Linked DNA regions of Homo sapiens. The protein of the gene in region 1 purifies or fractionates together with the protein of each later gene. This does not show direct contact. Each region holds a gene or a part of one and is shown on either strand. Other genes may lie near its edges. The genes, in order: SLC44A1, GNA11, ENPEP, AGPAT3, LARGE1, CR2 and NRP2.

What was found.
Region 2: the proteins of SLC44A1 (region 1) and GNA11 purify together in Homo sapiens (affinity purification with mass spectrometry; one large-scale study listed by BioGRID and IntAct). This does not show direct contact.
Region 3: the proteins of SLC44A1 (region 1) and ENPEP purify together in Homo sapiens (affinity purification with mass spectrometry; one large-scale study listed by BioGRID and IntAct). This does not show direct contact.
Region 4: the proteins of SLC44A1 (region 1) and AGPAT3 purify together in Homo sapiens (affinity purification with mass spectrometry; one large-scale study listed by BioGRID and IntAct). This does not show direct contact.
Region 5: the proteins of SLC44A1 (region 1) and LARGE1 purify together in Homo sapiens (affinity purification with mass spectrometry; one large-scale study listed by BioGRID and IntAct). This does not show direct contact.
Region 6: the proteins of SLC44A1 (region 1) and CR2 purify together in Homo sapiens (affinity purification with mass spectrometry; one large-scale study listed by BioGRID and IntAct). This does not show direct contact.
Region 7: the proteins of SLC44A1 (region 1) and NRP2 purify together in Homo sapiens (affinity purification with mass spectrometry; one large-scale study listed by BioGRID and IntAct). This does not show direct contact.

What each region holds. Positions count from the first base shown.
Region 1 is NC_000009.12:105,384,151-105,387,650, forward strand, and holds part of SLC44A1 (choline transporter-like protein 1), read left to right. Parts: intron 1-1,271; coding exon 1,272-1,352; coding exon of another isoform or gene 1,353-1,562; intron 1,563-3,500.
Region 2 is NC_000019.10:3,114,862-3,118,361, reverse strand, and holds part of GNA11 (guanine nucleotide-binding protein subunit alpha-11), read right to left. Parts: intron 3,419-3,500; coding exon 3,290-3,418; intron 1-3,289. UniProt on the Homo sapiens protein: Guanine nucleotide-binding proteins (G proteins) function as transducers downstream of G protein-coupled receptors (GPCRs) in numerous signaling cascades.
Region 3 is NC_000004.12:110,549,155-110,552,654, forward strand, and holds part of ENPEP (glutamyl aminopeptidase), read left to right. Parts: intron 1-191; coding exon 192-265; intron 266-373; coding exon 374-478; intron 479-561; coding exon 562-732; intron 733-3,500. UniProt on the Homo sapiens protein: Regulates central hypertension through its calcium-modulated preference to cleave N-terminal acidic residues from peptides such as angiotensin II.
Region 4 is NC_000021.9:43,871,723-43,875,222, reverse strand, and holds part of AGPAT3 (1-acyl-sn-glycerol-3-phosphate acyltransferase gamma), read right to left. Parts: intron 1-3,500. UniProt on the Homo sapiens protein: Converts 1-acyl-sn-glycerol-3-phosphate (lysophosphatidic acid or LPA) into 1,2-diacyl-sn-glycerol-3-phosphate (phosphatidic acid or PA) by incorporating an acyl moiety at the sn-2 position of the glycerol backbone.
Region 5 is NC_000022.11:33,276,977-33,280,476, reverse strand, and holds part of LARGE1 (xylosyl- and glucuronyltransferase LARGE1), read left to right. Parts: intron 1-3,221; coding exon 3,222-3,417; intron 3,418-3,500. UniProt on the Homo sapiens protein: Bifunctional glycosyltransferase with both alpha-1,3-xylosyltransferase and beta-1,3-glucuronyltransferase activities involved in the maturation of alpha-dystroglycan (DAG1) by glycosylation leading to DAG1 binding to laminin G-like domain-containing extracellular proteins with high affinity.
Region 6 is NC_000001.11:207,464,328-207,467,827, reverse strand, and holds part of CR2 (complement receptor type 2 isoform 1 precursor), read right to left. Parts: intron 1,303-3,500; coding exon 916-1,302; intron 1-915. UniProt on the Homo sapiens protein: Serves as a receptor for various ligands including complement component CD3d, HNRNPU OR IFNA1. When C3d is bound to antigens, attaches to C3d on B-cell surface and thereby facilitates the recognition and uptake of antigens by B-cells.
Region 7 is NC_000002.12:205,720,501-205,724,000, reverse strand, and holds part of NRP2 (neuropilin-2 isoform 2 precursor), read right to left. Parts: intron 1,524-3,500; coding exon 1,293-1,523; intron 217-1,292; coding exon 61-216; intron 1-60.

The DNA.
Region 1 (3,500 bases):
AATCTAAAATAAGTGTATTAATAAATAAGCTAGATTTTTTTTTTTTTCTTTTTGAGACGGAGTCTTGCTTTGTCACCCAGACTGCAGTGCAGTGGCATGGTCTTGGCTCTGCAACCTCTACCTCCCAGGTTCAAGCAGTTCTCCCTCAGCCTCCCAAATAGCTGGGATTACATGCATGTGCCACCACTCCTGGCTAATTTTTGTATTTTTAGTAGAGATGGGGTTTTACCATGTTGGCCAGGCCGGTCTTGAACTCCTGTCCTCAGGTGATCTGCCTGCCTCGGCCTTCCAAAATGCTGGGATTACAGGTGTGAGCCTCCATGCCCAGCCTAGATTTTTTTTTTCTTTTCAATAGCAAGAATTCCAAATGATTTAGCTGACCTATTTGGCACTGATTTTCTCTTTTTCTGGCAACATCAGCTAAATTCTGGACATTTTCTTAATGTCTAAACTAATTCTAACTGGTTATTTTCTTAATGGAATTTGATCATGATTATTGTATCTCTTTTGTGACTAAAGCATTTAGAAGAGTGTTACTGTTTTTTAAGTCACTGATCAAAAGCAGAGTAAAAAATAACTGTTTTCCACCCTTCAGTTTTCTCTGTAGGAATGGTGAGGATATTTAATGAAGAAGTTCCCCGTAAACGTTGACAGAATAGAAATGTTCCCTTTGGGCACATTCCCATTTCGACTACTACTAACCATAGGTTCTGGTTGATACACCCTGTCTTCCTGCTTCATGAAGTAATGTCATGGTCAGATTGACACTTTTTTTAAAAAGAGTAGTTTGTTTATGGTTTGGTTAAGAAAAAAAGCATTATGTGCTTAGCAGTATCAATGTGTTCTTTTACCTTCTATGGTTATTTAAAAGTGGAGGCTTATGGAGTAACGTGTTCTTGTTGTTTCATTTAACCTTGATATAGAAAAAAACAACAACAACAAATAAAATGATATTCTGAGTATGAGAAAATAGCCTCTTAAAAATGTTAGGTATTTTCTCTTCCAGGTAGAACTAACATTATCTCTTGGAGCCTTAGTAAGATTGTCACAATGAATGGATGGAAAGAAGATTTTTTTAATCAGCGAATTGCAGAGTCCATTTCTACAAATTTAGCAACTCTCATGTGTGATACTAAACATTATTTATTGCTATGTTTTTAAGCCATCCATTTACCAAGATTGAGTCAAAAATGTAGATGTTCTTTAGAATTCATCTACTAACAAATCTGAAAGGACCCAAGAATTTATTCAATATGGTCCATATTTTGCAGGAGTTTGTGGAAAACAGTAGGAAAGCAATGAAAGAAGCTGGTAAGGGAGGCGTCGCTGATTCCAGAGAGCTAAAGCCGATGGTAGGTGGAGATGAGGAGGTGGCCGCCCTCCAAGAATTTCACTTTCACTTCCTCTCTCTCTCTGTCTTCACTGACTGCACTTCTTCAGGAGAAGCTTTTGTTATCTGTATCACGCAGGACATGCTGCTCTTTCTGTTTGTGTGCTTACCCATCACTTGGATGGCAGAATTCTTGTCACAACTGAGACCACCTTCTATAAAAGTAAGCTGAAAGGAACAGCATCCTCGTCAGTGCTCGGCAGGGGCGGGTAGGGGATGATGGTTTTTTCCCTAAGGTAAAACTGCTGTTGCTCTTGTTTCCTTTTTAACTGTCAGTGTTTGGCTTTCATCAGACTGAACATTTTGGTGTACACTTGAACTGACGGTTTGATTTTTATCATTTTGGAAGGTGATCATAGCAATTCCTTTCAACTTGCTAAAATTCATACTCCCCCTTTTAAAAGTATGGTTCTGCTTACATTGCTGTCCTTTTCCCTTGGCTGACTTTTTCTTCTGTTGCCTAGGTTGTACTTTCTTTGTTTCTTAAGCTATTTTTCAGTAGCAAACAAGGCTGTTTTCATCAATACCCACATTCCCACTCAGTAAGACAATCTAGTCTTCTCCCAGTTTAATTGTGAGATGGATAAATTATTTCTGGTAGTTGATATTATATATGTATATGTACACAAATATATCTCTCTACTCCACTTTTATTTGAAAAAAGCAGCTTAATGAGTGTAAGAGAACCTTGAGCTGCTTTTCACATGGATATTGTCACTATAGCATAGAAACAGATGCCTCTATCATATATTGGTCTAATTACTTCCTAATTTAAACACGTATTTTTTTAAATAGCATGTTTATTTTCAAATATTATATAATTGTCTGCATCCTTAAATAATTTTAAACAATGTGTCCCCTGACTGCATATAATGTTCAAAAGTGTGAGGTAAGGACTTTCCTTTCTGTCTTCTTTACACTTTAGTAAATGATTTGATTTATAGCAAGTTTGTCCAACTTGCTGCCTGTGGGCCGCATATGGCTTAGGAAGGCTTTCAACACAAATTCGTAAACTTTATTAAAACATGAGATTTTTTGCCTTTTTTTTTTTAAGCCCATCAGCTATCCTTAATGTATTTTATATGTGGCCCAAGACAATTCTTCTTCCAGGATGGCCTGGGGAAGCCAAAAGATTGGATACCCCTGATTTGTAGGTTTTCAACTTTAAAATATATGCTATAAAATAAGTTCATTTAAGTAGGCTAGGCATGGTGGCTCATGTCTGTAATCCTAGCACTTTGGGAGGCCGAGGCAGGTGGATTGCCTGAGCTCAGCAGTTTGAGACCAGCCTGGGCAAAACGGTGAAACCCTGTCTCTACTAAAATACCAAAAAAAAAAAAAAAAAAAAATTAGCTGGGCATGGCGGCGTGTGCCTATAATCCGAGTTACTTGGGAGGCTGAAGCAGGAGAATTGCTTGAACCTGGGAGGCAGAGGTTGCAGTGAGCCAAGATGGCGCCATTGCATTCCAGCCTGGGCGACAGAGCGAGACTCCATCTCAAAAAAAAAAAAAAAAAAAAAAATATATATATATATGATATAAAATAAGCTCATTTAATTAAGAGTAAAGGAAATAGGTTTATTTTTGGAGGGAGGCAGGGAGGCTATATGTATATTCAAACTAATCGCATATTCAACCTAAGTTAAAGCCTCAATAAAATATTTAGATATAAAACCTTTCCTCTGTAACCCTTTCCAGTGCCTATTTTGGTGTTACTCTTACTTAATAGCATGAATAATTATAAAATCAAATTTAAATGTTTAGAATCCCAGAGCACAGATCACTCTAGTACCCACATAGCTCTGAATTTTAAGTTTGCATCACCTAGACATGATTGCTTGGGCAGATGGAGGCACACCAGTAATCTTCCCATCAGGTTCCATGCCTGCCCTCCACACCTTTCTGTATCCCTCTTATTTCACAAAAGCTGAGGAGGGCAGCAGTGGAGATTCTGCCAACCCTATGGCAACATGGAGAAATGAGGAAGGCTTCCTTCCTTCTACTGCTTGGAGGTCCTAATTGTTCAGCAAATCGATTCTAAGCCCAAAACTTAACAAGACATATGAAATCTTAAAATATAAACCAAGCTTTTCCCCCTTTTCTGTCTTTCT
Region 2 (3,500 bases), on another chromosome or scaffold:
AGGCCACGCACAGGCGGGAGAAAGAAAATCAGCTCAGACGATGTCTGCGGGCGTGCGTTCCTTACGGGACGTTTGCCTCTTTCTACTTGTGACTTTTCTAAGTTTTCTATAACGAGAAAAGGCACTTTGGTCTCCTTGAAAGAATACAAAGGCAGAAGCGGAGAGTGCCCCTCAGGCCCTGGCCCCAGGCCCCAGGGAAGGCCGGGGTCCCTGCAACTCTGCCGAGGAGAGCGGGGCTGCTTTGGGCATGTGAGTGGTGAAATCCACCTGGTCTGGTCTGCGGGGGAGTCCAGCAGGCACCGGTGGATGACAGATGTGCCAGGTGACTCTAAGGGACAAGAGGGCCCGCACCAGCAGCTGTGGCCAGGCGGGAGGACAGTGGGTGTGCCGACACCAGGCCACAGCCCGTCTGGAGCGCGAGGCCTCTCCTGCACGCCTGCGGCGGCCGGCAGGGCTGGGATCCGGGTCCCCCCGTGTCTTGTCCCCACCTGAGGGAGCAGGAGCCTCTCCTCACGCACTGGGACGATCCCACCGGCCTTCAAGGCCTCCAGCTGCATCCCACAGCACCTGGCCGGCCCTCTGCCAGCGTGTGGTGGACAGAGGCGGCTGGCAGAGAAACAATGGTGGCAGAGGAGTAGGCTCAGGACGGGGGTCTGCACCCGGCACAGAGGGCACAGCCGGGCCGGGCGCGGTGGCTCACGCCTGTAATCCCAGCACTTTGGGAGGCCGAGGCAGGCGGATCACGAGGTCAGGAGGTCGAGACCATCCTGGCTAACATGGTGAAACCACATCTCTACTAAAAAGTACAAAAAATTAGCCAGGCGTGGTGGCGGGCGTCTATAGTCCCAGCTACTCGGGAGGCTGAGGCAGGAGAATGGCGTGAACCCGGGAGGCGGAGCTTGCAGTGAGCCCAGATTGCACAGCTGCACTCCAGCCTGGGCGACAGAGCAAGACTCCGTCTCAAAAAAAAGAAAAGGGCACAGCTGGAGCTGGGAAGGGCCTGGAAGATGGTGGAGAGGGGGTGACACACCCAGCCTGAGCTCAGCTCAGGGAGGGGACAGGACATTTCTGACAGAGGACACAGAGGCCTGCGCTGTTAAGAGGCCAGCGTGGGGCTGTGAGGGGACATTCATGCCACAACCTGGCCTATGCCTGGCTCGCCTCAGCTGTATCCTGGGGTCATGGGCCCCGTGTGAATAAAAAAGAAGAAAAACTTGAATTCTCGTAACAATATACACCATCGCCCATGTCCAGAGAGGACACCGCAGCTTCTGAGGGCCCAGCGCCTGCTCGGGTCCCCGGGAACCATCCCAGAGCTTGGCATTCCTTGGCTTGTGGCCACATTGCTCCATCCCTGCCTCCATCTTCACGCCGCATCCTCCCTGCCTGCGCTGGGAGGCCGAGCTGGGAGGACGGGTGGGGAGAACAGGCAGATGGCAGGGGGTGGCACCCCCAGCCCTGGGGTGGGTCTCAAGGCAGGGCTCTCGAGGAAAACCCCACAGACTTCCCGGAACCCTCACAATGGCCTCGGCAGTGCACCAGCTGGGTGGGGACACCCTGGCAGGGAGGCGTCATTCCCTCATGAGGGCCAGTGCCAGGGCGAGCTTGCACTGCAGGAGAAGGCACCCGCAACCGGAGCCACCGCGAGGCCCTCCAGGACAGAGCCGTCTAGCGCCCCACACGCACGAACACCAGAACCCGGGGACGGCTCTGATCTGGAAACAGGGTCTGTGCGGATGTCACTGGTTAGGATAACGTCACACAGAGGTAGGGTGGCCCTGGCCAAGGACAGGTTATAAGAGAACAGAGGCAAAGGCGCAGGCGGGGAGGACGCTGCATGAGGATGGGGGCAGGGATGAGGCAACCCGGCCACAAGCCAAGGATGCCAAGGATGCCAAGGATGCCAAGGATGCGGCCGCCACTAGGAGCCGAGTGAGGCCTGGGCAGATCCCCTCAGCCTCAGAAGGACCTGGCCCGGCCCACACCTGCATCTCAGCCTTCTGGCCTCCAGCACTGGGCGGGAATAAGGCCTGCGGTGGGAGTCTCACGCCCGACACCAGCAGCCCAGGACAGGCACGCATAAAGCCGGGACCTCAGCGCTGGAGATGTTATATGGGGCCAGGAGACAGGCAGGCAGGGTCCACGTTCCCAGGGACAGCAGAGTCCAGCCAGCTGAGCAGCCTACCAGACACAGGACCCACTGAGGGTCCCCAGGGAGAACCCGGCTCTGCTGGCCGGCCCCCAGCCACAGTGGACCTGGAGCCCCGGAGGCCCAGCAGGATCCGCAGGGGCAGCCCGTGAAGAACAGAATCCACCCCACACCACCCAGCTCCTCCACCCCAGCCTGGAGCCCTCCTCCCCACTCAGTCCCTATGACCCCTCCTCCCCTCAAAGCCTCGGTCCCCACGACCCCTCCTCCCCTCACAGCCTCGGTCCCCATGACCCCTCTTCCCTGACAGCCTCGGCCCCTATGACCCCTCCTCCCCTCACAGCCTCAGTCCCTATGACCCCTCCTCCCCACTCAGTCCCTATGACCCCTCCTCCACTCACAGCCTCGGTCCCCGTGACCCCCCCCCTCCCCTCACAGCCTCGGTCCCTATGACCCCTCCTCCCCTCACAGCCTCGGTCCCCATGAGCCCCCTCCCCTGGCAGCCTCAGTCCCTATGACCCCTCCCGCACCATGCGGCACCCCCTGCTCCGGCCAGCACTCCAGACCCCAGCCCCATGCTGGCTCCAACCAGGCCCCCGGCCCGTCCTGGAGGCCCTGTCAAATGTCCTCCCTGCCAGGTCTCTTCGGCTGCCGGTCTGGATGGATGTGGCCACGCCCCCCACACCCCCACAGCTCCTTCCCTGTGTGGCCCTGGCTCACACATACTTAGAGATAAATCTTATCCCCTGACCTGGTCAAACACACACTGAGGATGAAGACCAATGGGCTTTCTTTTGTTTAATAAGACGAAACAGGGTCTCCCTCTGTCGCCCAGGCTGGAGTCCAGTGGTGCCATCATGGCTCACTTCAGCCTCAACCTCCTGGGCTTGAGCGATCCTCCTGCCTCAGCCTCCTGAGTAGCTGGGACCACAGGTGCACACAACCACGCCCAGCTAATTTTTAAAATTTTTTTTAGATATGAGGTCTGGCTATGTTGCCCAGGGTGGTCTCAAACTCCTGGACTCAGGCGATCCTCCCGCCTTGGCCTCCCAAAGCACTGGGTGCGCAGGCATGAGCCGGCACACCGGGCAAATGAGCCTCTCAGTGCCCCCTCCCCGCCTGCTGTGGCCCGGGCGGTACCGGAAGATGATGTTCTCCAGGTCGAAAGGGTACTCGATGATGCCGGTGGTGGGCACGCGGACCCGCAGCACGTCCTGCTGGGTGGGCAGGTAGCCCAAGGTGGCGATGCGGTCAACGTCGGTCAGGTAGCTGCAACACAGCGGTGGGTGCTCAGGCCGGCTGCCGGGGGTGGGGGGGCAGGACAGGGACACAGCACCCAAACCAGCGGGAG
Region 3 (3,500 bases), on another chromosome or scaffold:
GTTTATATTTTCAGGATTGAAAAAAATTGCAATGTGATAAAAATTAAATACATTGTTTTTCTAAGGACAAGCGCAAAGTTCTCTGAATTAGTAGGAAAACAGATTATAACAGGGGCTGCTGAGTATAATAATTGGGATACTACTGATATGTAGTAAATTGTTACTTATTGTACATAATACTTTTATTTCAGGAATACTTCCAAGGTCAAGTGAAGCCTATTGCAGATTCTCTGGGATGGAATGATGCTGGAGACCATGTCACAAAGTTATTCTCACTTTTTAACAACTAAAATTCATTTAACATTTGTTTTTTGTTTTAAGACTTGTTGAAAAGTGCTTAAGGCCCTGGATTTGTGTTTGTTTGTTTTTTAAGGTTACTCCGTTCCTCCGTGTTAGGGTTTGCGTGCAAGATGGGAGACAGAGAAGCCTTGAACAATGCTTCCTCGTTATTTGAGCAGTGGCTAAATGGGACTGTAAGGTGATTACTCACATTGTTATGCTTAGAAGACACATTTGAGAAAAGAGTAGTTGAAATCTCTGAAACACTGTTTCTTCTTCTAGCCTTCCCGTAAATCTCAGGCTTCTGGTGTATCGGTATGGGATGCAGAACTCTGGCAATGAGATTTCATGGAACTACACTCTTGAGCAATACCAGAAAACTTCATTAGCTCAAGAAAAAGAAAAACTGCTGTATGGATTAGCATCAGTGAAGAACGTTACTCTTTTGTCAAGGTAAGTTGGGCTTTTATTTCACATATATAAATAGTATTTAATAGTTTATGTGTCACAGTCTCTTTAAGAGTCTGATTAAAGTATGATGTTTTGTTTCCAAAAAAATCCATTAAAAGTTATTTTCCCTGCAAGAAACAAAATATCCATGTAAGACTGGCCTAAACAATAAGGAAATGTAATCTCATATGAACACATTCTGGAGGTAGGTAGCTTCCAGTTGTGTGCAGCGGCTCAACATTTTCACCCAGGACCCAGGCTCTTCTCTTTCTGATTTTCAATGATCGACATGTTGGATGTCTCATGACTTCCAGAGCTTGAAACATTTTGTTTTTACACAAACATGTGTAATGGAGGTAGGACAGGAGCAAAAGAGTTTCCTGACAAGGCTCTGTCTCTTATGCCAACAGGACAATTGTCTCCAATTCTCCTCATAATCCAGAACTGGGTCACCCTTCATCATTGTGAGTCACACTCTGGGTCTGCTACTTGATCCTTTGCTCACTAGGGTGAACTTGAATTCCTTTGGCTGATTTGAGCCAATTAGAATTATCTGGGACTGGGGTAGAAGTCTGTTTTACCTAAGATCAAGGATATCTAATGGTATCAGAGCAAAACTGGGCTCTGTGAGTAGAGAAAGAGGAGTGTCTGCCGCAAATGCATTTACACTTTACTCAGAAGGCACAAAGCTCATCTATGACTCATTTCCCACTCTGCATTTATACTTGAAATCAACAGGCTTCTTCCTTAATTCATTTTTTGCTTAGTTATAGTGTCTGAGTTATTTACTTCATTTATTTAACCAACACTTATGGTGTCCTTTCTATGTATAGATATATAGATTGTGGAAATAAAAATGAATAAAACATGAATAAAAATGACATCTATCCTTGAGATACTTACAGCTTCATGGGAGAGGCAGAATGTAAACAGTAAATTACAATGCAATACCAATTTAAAAGGACGACCAGAAGCAGTTTGCTTTTACCAGGTAGAGCCAATAATATACCTTCAGCCTCTTTCCTCAGGGCTATATATTAATTCTCCTGCTCTCTGCCATGACAGTTCATCAAGAACTCGATCATCTTGGCTGGGCACAGTGGCTCATGCCTATAATCCCAGCACTTTGGGAGGCCGAGGCAGGAGGTTTTCTTGAGCCCAGGAGTTCAAGACCAACCTGGGCAACATAGTGAGACCTCGTATCTATTTAAAAAAAAAAAAAAAAAAAGAACTTGATCATTTTCACATTTCACAAAACATCACTAATTCATTACTTTGATGGCATTGTGCTGATTGTATCTGGTAAGAAAATTAGCAAGAACTTTAGATGCCTTAGTAAGAACCTTGTGAACTAGGGGATGAAATAAATTCAGGATCCCACGACTTTAGTGCAATTTCTGGAAGTTCAATAGTTTAAAGCATATCACAACATTCCCTCCAAAGGAAAAGAAATTTGTTGCACCTTGACTGACATGCCACAGAAAAAGATTATTTTAGTGGACTTAGTAAACTTTTTTTAAATTTTGGAAGCAACATATCTCACATTTGAGTGTGTTACTTTAACCATTTACAGAGTCTTCCAGTTTCAAATAATGACTGGAGTAAAAGAAGATTCTGCAGCAAGTCCAGGCTGCAGTACGAGCTTCCTTGGAATCCCTTTCTTATTTGAAACATGTGATTGATATGTTGTATTTTCATAAAAGTAGATTTACCCACACAACTGCAAGTGCAAAGAAAATGTAGGACCTTGATTTTCTATCTGATTATTCCCAAGAGTTCTCACACTGCTGAGTGATGAGCCAGTGAGAGGGAGAACAACTGATGTTGACTATCTTTGTCTGCCAGTCTAGTTTTTAAATGAGTTGTTAAACTAGAATTCTCATTGAAATAGTCTCTTGGAGTAAATGTTCAGTCTTCTAGAGTTCCTTCCCTTCCTCATGGTCCTTCTGCACAGGGAGACATGCCACCCTTGTGGTGATGGAGAAAGAGACCTCTGATTTTTGCTGCTTTGGCCTTAAGGTGTTTACCTATTTTGGTCTGGGACAGAGTCTGCTGAGTTTTCATTGATCATATTTTACCTTCTGGTGCACTATCTGTCATCCAGAGATGAAAGCAGTGGTCCCAGTCACTTGCTTCTGTTCATGAAGTACCTGTGCTGTATGTATGGTATTTTTGTTTTCCCATCAGGTCTTCCAGTGTCCCTGCCTCTTATTGCTAGGCTGAAGAAACTGATAGCTTCCCATAAACAGGACCCACAAGTCGAAGGAACCAGGATCATTACCTTAAACTCAGTCATATATTCACCTCACCTTGCCTACGATGTACTGTCACTCTCCCATGCCATTTTGGCATAGCACAAAAGTACATGCTGAACTATAGACCTGTTCTTAAGGGGTTGTGTTTTCCAGTTTCACATGTGGCATGGACTTTATTTAAGCTTGAGTTTTCTCCAGTCTCATTTAGGGTAAATTTCTACTTCAAGTATGCTAAGGGTCTTGATATATTAATAAAAGCATACATAATTTAGAAATACCTTTTCTGTTTGACAAAGGCTGACTCTCAAAGGCTCACAACTCAAGTTGAACAGTGATCCCTTTGTTGTAGTTATTATCTCAATATCTTCCTAAAGATATAAATGAATTAAGCCAATGGGTAGGATGCCATGGGGCAGCAAGACTTGAGTAACATGAAAATACATCTAATCTATCAGTAGTAGACATCTATTTTTGAGGTTCCCTTGTCACAGTGAACAAAATGTGTGCTGACCTTTT
Region 4 (3,500 bases), on another chromosome or scaffold:
CAGATCATGAGGTCAGAGTTCAAAACCAGCCTGGCCAATATGGTGAAACCCCTTCTCTACTAAAAATACAAAAATTACCCCAGGCGTGGTGGTGGGCGCCTGTAATTCCAGTTACTCAGGAGGCTGAGGCTGGAGAATTGCTTGAACCTGGGAGGCGGAGGTTACAGTGAGCCAAGATCGTGCCACTGCACTCCAGCTTGGGCGACTGAGTGAGACTCCATCTCAAAAACAAAGAAAAAAATACATATATGGGAGAATGTGCACAGGTTATATACAAATACGACACCATTTTATATCAGGAACTTAAGCATCCACTAATTTTGGTATCCATGGTGGGTTCTGGAACCAATCCCTAGTGGATACCGCAGAATGACTGTATTGAACAAAATAATGGCTGAAAATTTTCCAGAATTGCTGAAAGACATGATACTTTATCTTCAGAAAGTACAATGAATCCAAAACAGGATAAACAAAAAGAAATCCATGCTAGAAAGACCACAGTCAAGTTGAAAAACACCAGAAATAAAGAGACTATAAAAGCAGCCAGACAAAAAGCTTACTACTGACACAGGAAGGACAATTGAAATGACAGCTGGCTTCCTAACCGCAACTTTATAAGCCAGAAGATACATAATAGAATTCAATCCTTAAAGAAATGCCAGAGACTCAGTGCTATACAGACTATATCCCTCTGCCCATGAGGCTTTTCAGCTGAAATCATAATAAAAACAACCTAAAATCCTCAATGCCTTTGGACATAAATGCATTCATGGGTCATGGAAGAATAATAAAATTGTAAAATGCTGAACAATGAAAATATTACATATCAAAATAAACAAGACGACAGTACAGCAGAACTAAGTAGGAAAGCTACATAGACTTAAATGCTTATGACAGGACCGGGCGTGGTGGCTCATGCCTGTAATCCCAGCACTCGGGGAAGCCGAGGTGGGCGGATTGCCTGAGGTCAGGAGTTCAAGACCAGCCTGGCCAACATGGTGAAACCCTGTCTCTACTAAAAATACAATAGTTAGCCAGGCATGGTGGCACACGCCTATAATCCCAGCTACTCAGGTGGCTGAGGCAGGAGAACCACTTGAATCCGGGAGGCGGAGGTTGCAGTGAGCCGAGATCACGCCAGCCTGCGTGACAGAGGGAGACTCTGTCTCAAAAAATAATAATAAAATACTTATGACAGAAAGTTGAAAATTAAGAAACTAAGCTTAGAGAAAATAGAAAAGAAAATGTTTCAATTCAGTAACCTAGAAAGAGAACACCAGAATAAACCCAAAGAGTGTAGAAGGAAATCCTGACAATGAGCAGAAATTAGTGATACGGAAACAAAGACACAGTGGAGAAAATGAGTAAGACTGATAGCTGGTTCTTTGTGAACACTAATAAAAAAGATGAGCCTCTGTGAGATGAATCTAGAAAAGAAAGGTAAAACCATTTTAGGAATGAAAAGGGTGATTTACTGTCAGATATAGTAGAGATTTAAAAATTAAGAAAATATTCTGACCTTTGTATCAAGAAACTGACAACTTGGGCTGGGCGCAGTGGCTCACGCCTGTAATCCCAGCATTTTAGAAGGCCAAGGTGGGAGGATCACCTGAGGTCAGGAGTTCGAGACCAGCCTGGCCAACATGGTGAAACCCCGTCTCTACTGAAAATGCAAAAATTAGCCAGGCGTGGTGGTGCGCGCCTGTAATCCCAGCTACTCGGGAGGCTGAGGCAGGAGAATCGCTTGAACCCGGGAGGCAGAGGATGCAGAAGCCCTGTGTTCTCCTTCCAGGTACTAGAGCCGGAGTCCTCAGGGCACATGGGTTTTGCTGGTGCGCGTGCTTTACCTTGATGAAGTCAGGTGCTGCATACACTTCTGCGGCTCACTCCTTCCACCCAGCGTTATCCTCCGGAGGCGCACACATGTTGCGGCCTGGAGGAGCTCCTTCCTTCCCCTTTCCATGGCGAATGTAGCACGAGGTTATTTTTCATTTTATTTGGAGACAGGCATTGAGAGAGCTCCCGGGGTCTGACTCCAACACCCATGCCACTATGAGCACCTCAGCATGTCCCCCGGGAAGCACACGGCAGGTGCACCCGCCACTCGATGCCATCTCCCTGCAGCTCCTGCCATTCCCAAAGCAGCCACGCTGGCACCAGTGCTCTGTCTGCCCCCACATCTTCTCCAGCACTTGTCCCCACAGTCTTTTAAGTTTCGCCGTCCCGGCAGGGGGAGGCCGCAGCTCTCTGTGGTTTTGTTTCTGCGTCTTCCCGGTGACCCATGACAGTGGATCTTCCATCTCTCCAGCTCCTTGCTTTTGGGTCACTTTGTTTGTATTTCTCACACCAGGCCTCCTCTGCTTCAAGGAGGCAGAGTGGGACGATTCAGAACTAAACGGCCACTGTTTGTACCCACACCGGAAGGCAGCATGGTAGAAGCATTTCCCTAAAATCAGGAACAGGACAAGGATGGCCTGTCACACTTCCATACAGCCCTGCTCAGGAGGGCCTGGCCCAGGCAGCAAAACAGGAAGGAAAAATACGAAAGATATAAGGAAGAAACAGAGTCTTCACCACTCCCACATGACGTGAATGTCTACTGAGAAAATCCCCAAAATCTACAAATAAATTTTAAGCAATGGCAAGGTGATCAGCTGTTAAATCAATACCCAAAAGTCAACTGCATTTCTACAGAACACCAGCAAAGACTTAGAAATCAATAAAAATAAAAAACACCATTTACGGCCGGCGCGGTGGCTCACGCCTGTAATTCCAACACTTTGGGAGGCCGAGGTGGGTGGATCACTTGAGGTCAGGAGTTCGAGACCAGCCTGGCCAACATGGTGAAACCCTGTCTCTACTAAAAATACAAAAATTAGCTAGGCATGGTGGCGTATGCCTGTAATCTCAGCTACTCGGGAGGCTGAAGCAGGAAAATCACTTGAACCCGGGAGGCAGAGGTTGCAGTGAACTGAGATCCTGCCACTGCACTCCAGCCTGGGTGACAGAGCAAGATTTTGTCTCAAAAGAAAAAAAAAAAAAAACACCATTTACAAAAGCAAGAACAATAATAAGGGCACCTGGGAATAAATGTAAGCACAGAGTGTCAGGTGGAATGTGAAATACCACGGTGCTTTATCAAAAGACACCTCGGAAGACCTGCACAGTCAACTCTAGAGAGATAAAGGGCTTAAGCAGAGAAAGCAAACTTTACAACTTCTACAGAAAAATACAGAATACATTTGTGACCCAAGAATTGGGAAGAACTTAAAGTAACATGCAAAAGGCACTACCTAGAAAAGAAGGATGGATAAAATTATACATTACATTAAAACTATCTTTTCACCAAAACAAAAAAAGTGAAAAGATAAAACCCAACTGGGAAAAATATATAATGCACACATTACAGCCAAAGATGAACATCCTGAATCTATAAGGAAATATATAATATGGAAACTATATATAAGGAATAGGTGAGAAAAAGACATCACCCAAAAGAA
Region 5 (3,500 bases), on another chromosome or scaffold:
AATTTTCTGAGAGTTTAGATTCTAAAGGTGGATGACCAATAACATGGCTGTCAATATCACTGAGAGCAAGACCACCAGGAATTGACATCATATCTGGGAAGCAAACAAGGAGAAATAATAAAGAGAATTTTCTCTTTCTCTTTTTTTTTTTTTTTTTTTTTGAGGAGTTACCATATATCAGAAACTACTCTGAGTACTGTATGTGAATTAAGTCACATAATCATCATAAATCTATGAAGTAGATATTGCTGTGTCCGTTTTGCCAAGAGAAGGAAACAAAGGTGCCAAGTAGTTAATGTACCCATACCTGTTGAATGACAGAATTGGAACCCAGGCAGGCAGCCTCCAGAACCATTGCTTTTAACCACTTTGTTATAAAACTAGCATTTATTGAATTCCTCTTAGATGTCAATACTGCGCCAGACTCTTTATATTTTCTCACTTAAGCTCTTTGGCAGTTCAACCAGATAGGTATTCTTTTCCCCAGTTGACACAAAAGGAAATTAACGGCTAATTAAAGCATTTTGTTCTGCAAGGCATTCAGCTCCTAAGTGGCAGAGGTGGGATTTGAACCCTGGCCTGATGGCTCCATTGTGCTTTAAAACCTCATACAAGTTCACGGCCATCAGCTGTGCTGTGCCAGTTCTGTTGAAGGCATCAGGTGTTAAGACTGCCCATTCAGCAAGTTCACAAATGGAAAAGCAACTGCTTCTGGGCCTAATTGTTGGATCATGCCCGAAATTGACATCTCCCGCAATATCCCTTTTCCACACTCCATGAAAATGGCATTGCTTCACCTTTCATTTTTCTTCCATTTAAGTGGCTTTGGTTTTGATGGAAGTTGCTGTGTTGATGGAGCTGAAGTTCAAGTTCCTGCCCTCCCCTAGCCTGGCTGTCTCACCCAACAGCACAACTTGATCAAAGCCCACCCATTGGCCAGTGCCCATTCAGCTGCACTGGCCAGTTCCCTGAGGGTTTGGGGGGAGTCCAGCCTCAGTGGTAGAAAAGCAAAAGAAGGAAGCAGTTGCATTCCCTGCCAGAAAGTGTCCCATTGGCCACACGGAACACTCAGTCTCACTTAGCGCCTCCCTTGCTTTGGAGAGACTGCCCACAGGATGAGATGGAACCCAGACTTCCACTTCCTCTCTCCCTGCAGCTATGCTCTTGGGTTCCCACCCTTCTGTCTTGTTTTCATTTCATGAAGCTTTTCTTTCCAGCTCTGGATACTCTTCCTAACTCTTCTCTTGGGCCCTGTCTAGTCCTTCACTAGATGCCCAGCTTCCTGCCGTCTCTCTGTAGCTTCTAGAGGCATATTGCCATCTCACACATGGACCTGTCTCAGGTGCCTCTCATGTTGTTAGGTTACTCATTCATTCATTCAGTTTAGTGCACAATTGTTGAGTACTCGTTCAACAGGCCAGGAAGTGTGGGGGACAGGGACATATAAGAGAGGTGACCCAGCCGGCCGTGGTGGCTCATGCCTGTAATCCCAGCACTGTGGGAGGCCAAGACGGGCGGATCATGAGGTCAAGAGATGGAGACCATCCTGGCCAACATGGTGAAACCCCGTGTCTACTAAAAATACAAAAATTAGCCAGGCGTGGTGATGCGTGCCTGTAGTCCTAGCCACTTGGGAGGCTGAGGCAGGAGAATCGCTTGAACCGGGGAGGCAGAGGTTGCAGTGAGCCAAGATCGTGCCACTGCACTCCAGCCTGGAGACAGAGCGAGACTCCATCCCAAAAAATAAAAAAATAAAAAAAGAGAGGTGAAGTGCTTAAGGAGGCTCCTGGCCTTTGAGCAAGGCTTCCCGGGTTTGAATCACAACTCCACCACTGACTACTTGTACTTTGACATTTGGTAAGTTATAAGAATTTAAAACAATATCTGCGTGTGTGTGTGTGTGTGTGTGTGTGTGTGTGTGTGAGAGAGAGAGATTTAAAATAGTCCCAGTACACAGTAAGTGGTTAACTAATATTAGCTGCTTCTTATTGTGGTTATATGATTGTATTCATTTGCTACTACTGTATAACAAATTACCACAAACATAGCAGCTTGAAACAAATTTGTGATCTCACAGTCTCTAGGGATCAGAGATTCAGGCATGGAATGACTGGATTCTCTGCTTGGGATCTCACTGGGCTGAAATCAAGGAGTCAGCAGACCTGCATTTCTCCTCTTCCCAGATCACTGGTGGTTAGCAGAATTTCTCTCCTTTCGTTCCTAGGCCTAAGGTCCCATTTTCCTGCTGGCTTTTGGCCAGGGACTGCTCTCCTAGAGTCTAGTTAATTTGCCACATGGCCCCCATAGGCAGCTCCCAACATAGCTCCTTGCTTTCTTCCAGACCCAGGTCTAAAGGGTCACATGATTCAATCATCTCCCATTTTCACACAAAGTAAAGTGGTGAGTAACCTTATTTATATCTAGAACAATCCCTTCTGCCATATAATGTACCATAATCCCAGGAGTGATCACATACATACTCACAGGTTCTGCCTCAAGGGGAGAGCATTGGACAGGGTGAGAGTCATGGGGGACCGTCTGATACTCCTACCACAGTCTGGCAGCAATCACTACACAAGCTCACCTGCAGTCAATTCCTGAGAAATGACATGGAGCCCTCCAGGAGTTCCTTTTCATAGTGAGAATCTCCTCGTTAGTGAAATGTGCAGATAGCAGATGGGATTAGGGTTTCCTGCAGCTGCTGCAGCAAAATACTACAAACTGGATGGCTTAACATAATAGAAATTTATTCTCTCACAATTCTGGAGGCCGGAAGTCCAAGATCAAGCTGTCAGCAGGTCCATGCTTCTTCCCTGAGGTCCTAGGCCTCCGTCTGGTGATTGCCAGCAGTGTTTAGCAATCTTTGATTTATAGATGCACCCGTCATCCAATCTCTCCCAATGTCTATACATGGTATTCTTGCTGTGTGTCTCTGTGTCTAAATTTTCCCCTTCTTATAAGGACAACAAATATTGGATTAGTGCCACCCCAATCCACTGTGATCTCATGATAACCTCATTATATCTGCAAAGATCCTGATTCCAAATAGGTCCCATTCACAGGTACTGGGGGTTAGGACTTCAACATAGCTTTTGGGAGGGAGACAGTTCAACTCACCCGAGGACTACATCAGTGTACACCCCTTCTTCCTCCACATCGGCTGCATTTGGAGAGCTTGGCTTCCTTCCCTACACCCAATGGCTTTTCTCCGTGTGTCTCAGGTACCACGTCTGGACGAAAGGCCACGCACCCACAAACTTCGCCAAGTGGCGGACCGCCACCACGCCTTACCGGGTTGAGTGGGAGGCCGATTTTGAGCCGTATGTTGTTGTGAGACGTGACTGCCCGGAGTACGACCGGAGGTTTGTAGGCTTTGGCTGGAACAAAGTGGCTCATATCATGGAGCTGGATGTGCAGGTGAGAAGAACGGAGCATCCACCTGGTATGGTCGACGGGGGAGAGGCCTAGATCCTAGAGCTTAAGGGATCCTTGGAGACAAG
Region 6 (3,500 bases), on another chromosome or scaffold:
CTACTTAGCGACATGTATACGATATCCTTCCATGTCCATACATATATGTCTGTCTAAATTGTTACAAAGGCTTAACTGTTTTCAGCAGCCATTGCCCTTTGTAACTATCGTTAAGATCTCCTTCCTCCAAGGCTATTTATCAATCAATCAATCAATAAACAGAATCCCATTTTATACTAATTTAACAGTTTTGTCAGCTCTTTAATCTGCTTAAAATTTGTCAATATTGTTCTTTATTAAGAAAATACCTAATTTGATAGTATAATTTTTGTCAAATATTGCCATTTCTTGTAATTGTGGAATTCAAATTCAGATTTATATTTCAGCAGCAACATAAACCAAACCAAAAGAGAAGGAATGAATAATTTACAGTAGGTCCCTATTTTCAAAGGCATTTATTTGAAATGTGATGGCTCAGAAGATGACTTGGGGAAATAGTGGATAACTTCAAAACATGTTTACAGAGACCACAGAGAGCAGGATATCACCTGTGCTAGACTGTGTTAGCAGCTACTTATACATTAATTTCAAATCCATTGGGTGTATTTTTGCTATAAGATCCCACCGTTCTTCTCATTTTAACAGTAACACAGATATACAGTTGAAAACCACCCCATTCCCACATCCCCAACAAACTCTGACCCCATCCTTGCAAAACTTACCCTACTCAATTATTAGGTGTGTTTAATTACATTTTTCCATGTACTTTAAACTCCTTTGCTCAATTGATGTTTTTTGAACGAGCAGTTATATGCCTCCACGAAGAAGCCATAACTTTCACCTTTTCCCTTGTTTCCTTCTTCCACCCTCATCATTACATGTTCACACTGTTTGTCCTTCAGGAGGGTACAAAACGTGGTCTGCACAGAAAGGCAAGACCCCAACCTCCCAACCCAGCTTTCTTTTCATACTCACCACTTACACAGGTTGGTAGTCGTGTCGGCCCCCACATATTATTTGCTTGACACCAAACAGACTTGTTTCCGTTCATGGAGAAGTTGGTTTTACAGGCAAATGTCACAGAATCACCATGTCTGTAGGGTGTAGAGCCTCTAATTTTGTATCCTCCTGGTACTATGGGCTCAGGGCAAGAAGAATATTTATTGAAATATTCACATTTAGGAGCAGGTTTATCCCAGGTTCCATCCACTTTGTCTTTAGTTATGCATAATAGACTTTTTTCTCCAATGAGGCGGAAGGTACCTGAACAACTGTACCTTATCACGGTACCAACAGCAATGGGGGTAGAATAATAACTAATCCGGCCATTTAGGATAGGCGGAGGAGAGCCACAAGAAATCCCTGAAAAGTAGAAAAGGAACTTGGTAGGCATACTGATCATGGTGAGAAAATATTCAAATGTAGGTAAAATATCCAAATATAGATCACATAACTTTTTCAGAAACAGACTTAGAAATATGTATAGTTTATTTATTCCCTGCTTACTCCCAAACTCCTAAATTCTTACCTTTTTCTTGATCCTCAGCAAACAGATCAACATAAATCATCTTGACCAAACAATAATAATGAAAAGAATATATCCAAAAGTTCTGAGTCTAATCAATTTTAATAATGAAACAAAAGGCAAATTCAGCACATGAAAATAACATATTAGTGGCATGATAGTTACATGTGGGGAGGTACCATGGATTAGGGAAATTTGAGCTCAGTGGACCTAGTTTCAACTCCCCACGGTCATTCAATAGCTGTGTGACCTCAGGCAAGTCTTACTCTCTTTAAGCTTCAGTTTCTTAGTCTATAGTATAACGCAAACTACTTCATAAGGTATAGTGAGAATCCAGTGCTAAAAGTACATGAACAGAGAAAGTACAATACCTGGAACATACTAATTATTCAATGGCTGCTTCAAACACACAACTGGGGGTACAGGCTGAGATGACCACTTTTGGTCCTGCTGCTGAAGATGCTAGAGCCTCAGTACAGGTGATTTGTCCTGACTTGAGGCTGGAACACTTTGAAAAAGCCACAGGAAGTGAACAGAGGTTTTGAATAATGGCCTCATATTCTTCATTTACTTGTCCTAATAACCATGAAGGATATTGTTTACATTTACTTTGTTATGCACGCCTTTTCTGAGGGAGTCTCAGAATAAAGGGAAAATTGCCAACCTCTAGAACTTTCAGTTAACTTCCCTTTGGCTCCAAGAGGAGGTCTTCAGTGAAAACTGACATAAGAAGATACAGCCAAACTGTTTCATCACATCAGTGCTATACTTGGTTTCAGTAAGGGTAACTTTCGAGAACTGTTGTCTTTATACATATAGAATCTGCAGTATAATATATACTCAACTGAATCAATTTAACATCTTTGGTCTGCATTCCAGAAGACAGAGAAGAGTGGCATATATATGTTCAAAGCACACCTATGGATAAGATGTGATAATTATATATATATATATGTATGAAAAAATCTCTAATCATTGACTTTGGTGCTATCTGCTTTTTTAAAAAAGCATCTTTTAATTTCCCCTACAATAACACAGATCTAGCACTGCCCCAAAATACAAAAGAAGAAAAAGTCCTACATCTGCAACATTTAGATATTACTTTCAAAGTTTACTTTTAAACTCTTTAACTAGGCAGGGTGTGGTGGTTCACGTCTGTAATCCCAGCACTTTGGGAGGCTGAGGCAGGTGGATCACCTGAGGTCAGGAGTTCAAGACCAGCCTGGTCAACATGGTGAAACCCCATCTCTACAAAAATACAAAAATTAGCCAGGCATGATGTTGGATGCCTGTAATCCCAGCTACTCGGGAGGCTGAGACAGGAGAATCGCTTGAACCCAGGAGGTGGAGGTTGCAGTGAGCCAAGATCACGCCATTGCACTCCAGCCTGGGCGACTGAGCGAGACTCCATCTCAAAAAAACAAAAACAGAAACACAAAACAAACAATAACAATAAAAAACTCTTTAACTAGAAAACTCAACCACATATACTATCTTCCTTCTGCTCTTTCCATAGGTACCATATATCTATTTCCCAGAAAAACCTTGTTTTATTTCTAGATCCTGAAGTTTCAGCCCAACTCACCCCTGAAGCACTTTGGCAGTAGAGGATTCTGTTTGCTGTTTAGTTGACACCATATTACATTGCTGCCTTTCAGGGTAAAACCAAGCTTACACTTAAATATCATGTATCATTTTAAAAAAATGAACATAATCCAGATTCCACAACTCCATTTTCAACTTCTATAATTGAGCATTCAAGTAAGAGTAATACACTGAAGAGGAGGGTTGCTCCAGAGCTCCAGACATCAACTTGATTATCTTTGCTGGTGCAATGCATTGACTTCTCATCCAAGAGGTCAAACAGCTTTTCCCTATTACATCCAATATGGCACTGATGATTTCATAGCAAACCCCTCTCCCTGCTGCTGCTGTCAAAGTCCCATGGGGGATGGCTGGGAGTGACTTACAAGGAATACCTTTTTAAGGAGTAGGTGGGGAAAGAGAGAATATTATACTTTCTGAGAATTTTCTC
Region 7 (3,500 bases), on another chromosome or scaffold:
TGTACACCCTCACAGCCCTGACGGAAGGACAGGACAGAGGTTCCCAATCGGCCAACTCACTCTCTAGTGGCTCTTGGTGGACCAGGTAGTAACGCGCAGAGAAGCCATCCTTGGCCACCGCCATGTCCGTGTGAAAGGTCAGGGAGAGGATCCCCGTCGATGAACGAAGTTCAGAGGGTGTTTTGGTCCCACAGTACTTGCCAATCAGGGGGCCAACTGGACATTCAAGACAAAGAGAAGTCAGTGGAAATCAAAATGTCAAACTTGGTTTTCACTCCGTTTTCCCTTCCCCTCATTGCATTTCATTCAGTGGAGCACACTTTGTACATCTTGCCATAAAAACCAAAGATATGTTTCAAGAACAATGGCTAATATTTTTCCTGCACATCAAAAAGCACTTTCACTTTTTCATTAAAAAGGTACAGGCCACTTTCACTGGCTTCATTCTGTTCTCAGTGGCCTGGAAGATGAGCTGGAAAGGTATCATTACAATGTCTGTTCTACAGAGGAAGAAACTGAAGTTTGGAGAGCGCATGTGATTTCTTTATTCTTACTGCTAGGAAATAGCAGAGCTGGGCCTACAACCCAAGTTTTCTGACTAAGTCTTGTGATTTACCCAGGAAATGAAATTGCTCTTTTTGCTTAGTCATCAAGTCTCCTTTATATTAGAAAAAACTTACAATGACTACAAAAGTGAAAGATTTGTTCCTCTCCAATACTAATTAGACCCAAGATCCATGTTGGTCTTCACCTGCGAAGTACTGGTGGCTGTTAGCCTTGGGTGATGTACCTTTTCAATATTTATGACTATATTAATGACAATTTTAAAATTATAGTAATAATGATGATGATAGCAGCTAACTTAACACAGATAAGGCACAGATAGGGTAAGGGATTTGTCTAAGGTTGCACAGCTGGGGAGTAGCAGAGCCGGGAGTTAAGCCCGGCCAGTCTGGCTCTGGAGTCCTTCTGTTTTGTCACAGGGGTTAGCCACTGAGCCACCTTCTATCCTGACAATTTGGAGTAGAAATGAACACTTTAAGTTTTCTCATCCTTTCCAAGTATCTATTTAGTCTCCTATCCTTTTCTAAAGAAATATTTCCAAGAAAGTAGACAGCCTTCCTGTAATTTCTCTCAAGCTATCCTTAGTGAAGGGGAAGAAGAGAAAGTCACCATGGGTCATATAAGAACTCATAGGAGCTTTGAAGTCTTTGTTCTTCCTCTTTATCATCACTAAAGCAATTAACAGGCAAAGGCCAAGCTACTGAGGAATGCCTCATGACATCACTCACCATGTGGAATGCCATCCCAGATGTCCAGCCAATCGTACTTGCAGTCCCCCTCTCCCACCTGCAAAGGGTCATGCTCCAGGTCAAAGATCAGGAACTGCAGGATGATCTCCATCTTGGGTTTGGCCAGGATGGTAAAGGTGCAGTCCAAGTTGTGTGGATACTTCTCAGGAAACCCAGGAGATTCGATGGTCCCGTTGGGGCTTGTGAAGTTTTTTGAGCAATCTTCAGAGCCTGTATGTAAAAGAGAACTGTAGCACTAAGAAGAAGATGCCTTTCTTTGTGGCCTCTGTCACATGGGTTATTTAAATGTTTGGCCCCAAATCCCCCTGCTCTTGAGGTTTTTGTTGCTACTGGAGTGGCCCTTGAAGCAACATACTCTTCACATGCACGTTTCAAGCCCTCATAAATTAGGGAGGCACAGCTGGCTTGCTCTACATAATTATTAGAGTGAGAGCAGCAATTGAGGAATTGGGGAGTGGGGTGGAGGTACAGAGAAGTGTGTGTGTGTGTGTGTGTGTGTGTGTGTGTGTGTGTGTATGAGAGAGAGAGAGAGAGAGAGAGAGGGATTCTCTTGAAAAGAGGAACAGAGTCTTCTTTCTCAATTACTCAGCTGCTCACTCCAGAAATGTAAGTTATTTCAATCCTTAAGGAAGCCTTGCTGATTGCCAGCAGGGAAAACAATGTTACCCCTTATTTGTTGCTGACCTCAACACTAGCCCCTATTGTACCACAGCCAACGAAGTGCCCCCTTCTCCCTCCAAGATCCAAGGTGCCTCAGGGGAGGGGCAAAGGGGAGCTTGGGTCTCATTCATGTCATGACTATATTAAAACGAGCTGCTCTGTAGTGGTCGGACAATTAACAATCGATGTTTTTAGCTGGTGGATCACAGCAGGCCGTTGGGGATGTTAAAGGCCGCTCCGGCAACAAGTTTGGAAAAATGCAGCAGTGCATTGACATTTGGAAGGCTTCTGGCTCCTTTGTGGTGTGGATGGCCTTGTTTCTCTCCTGAGCTCTTGCGTCTGCTTTCTTGGGACGCATGGAGGCATCCTGATTAAATGCGGCACACATTCGCATCCTGGTGCGAGCTTGGATGGCAGCAGGAGCAGGAACAGGAGCTCATAAGAGGATTACAGCCACCCTATCTCTTAATGCCTCTAGGTGGAGTCATATTAAAAGGGTCCTTGTGCTTTAACCAGCCACCATTTGCCAGGGCAGCACCACAGATGGGTCCCGGGAGCACTGCAACCCAGACCCATGGACCCACGAAGCACGAGCTCATGCACATTCACGCAATGAATGAAAGTGCTGGACAATTAGAATTGATTTCACTCGTTATGTTCAGATTTTAAAAGAAGAAAAGGAAGCAGGATTTTTGAGGAGGATAATAGACACTCTAAGCATAAAAAACACAACCAACCAGAAATACTCGATAAACTGGGTGTTTACTGTCAGGAAGTGTCCTCTGGGGCTCACACTGAAATATAACTAGGTGATGTCAATACACTGATCTGAGCCTGCAGCGATGCCTTTATCCGCAGCTCCTGTAGGGGGCCTCTCATTGAGTCTCTTTATTGATGACAGCATTCTGGAAAGAGGCAAATGTCTGATTTGGAAGAAGTGCCATGCAAATAAATGCGGATGGAGGAGTTGCAACTTTCTTCAGCACCAGACAGAAAATTCCAGTATCTCCTACCTATCCATCCATCACTTCCTACTTTCCACCTTGTGCTGTGCTTTGGCAGGGTAGGGACTAGGAACACACGAGGGCAAGGGCTAACCTTTGCATGGGTTCTGTGGAGGCTCTAAGCAGCGAATCTCAGAGGCTCTGCACCCCATCATTCATATGCATGGCAGCAGCAGGTCAGGCCGAGTTTTCAATGGGCAGCTAGTCCTGGAGGGATGAGCTGGGGCTGCCTCCCCCAGCTTTGTTTATGATTGGGCTTCGGACTCCTGAGGGCCTCCTCAATGGCCCGGGATGAGGCAATTCAGCAAAGCCAAGCCAGCTGGCGGGTCTTCAGGGGGCCAAGAGGAATTTTGAAAAGGTTAGAGTTTATGGCTGCTGTGCAGCATTCTTCATGCGGGCCACTCAGCTGAGCCTCACACATGGTTGTGAGGAAATTAACTCTCTATTCACTTCTTGCTTGAGAGCTAGAAAGAGCATCCTGACATGCCCTCTTAGAGCTTGCTCTATTGTCATTCCCTTAGAA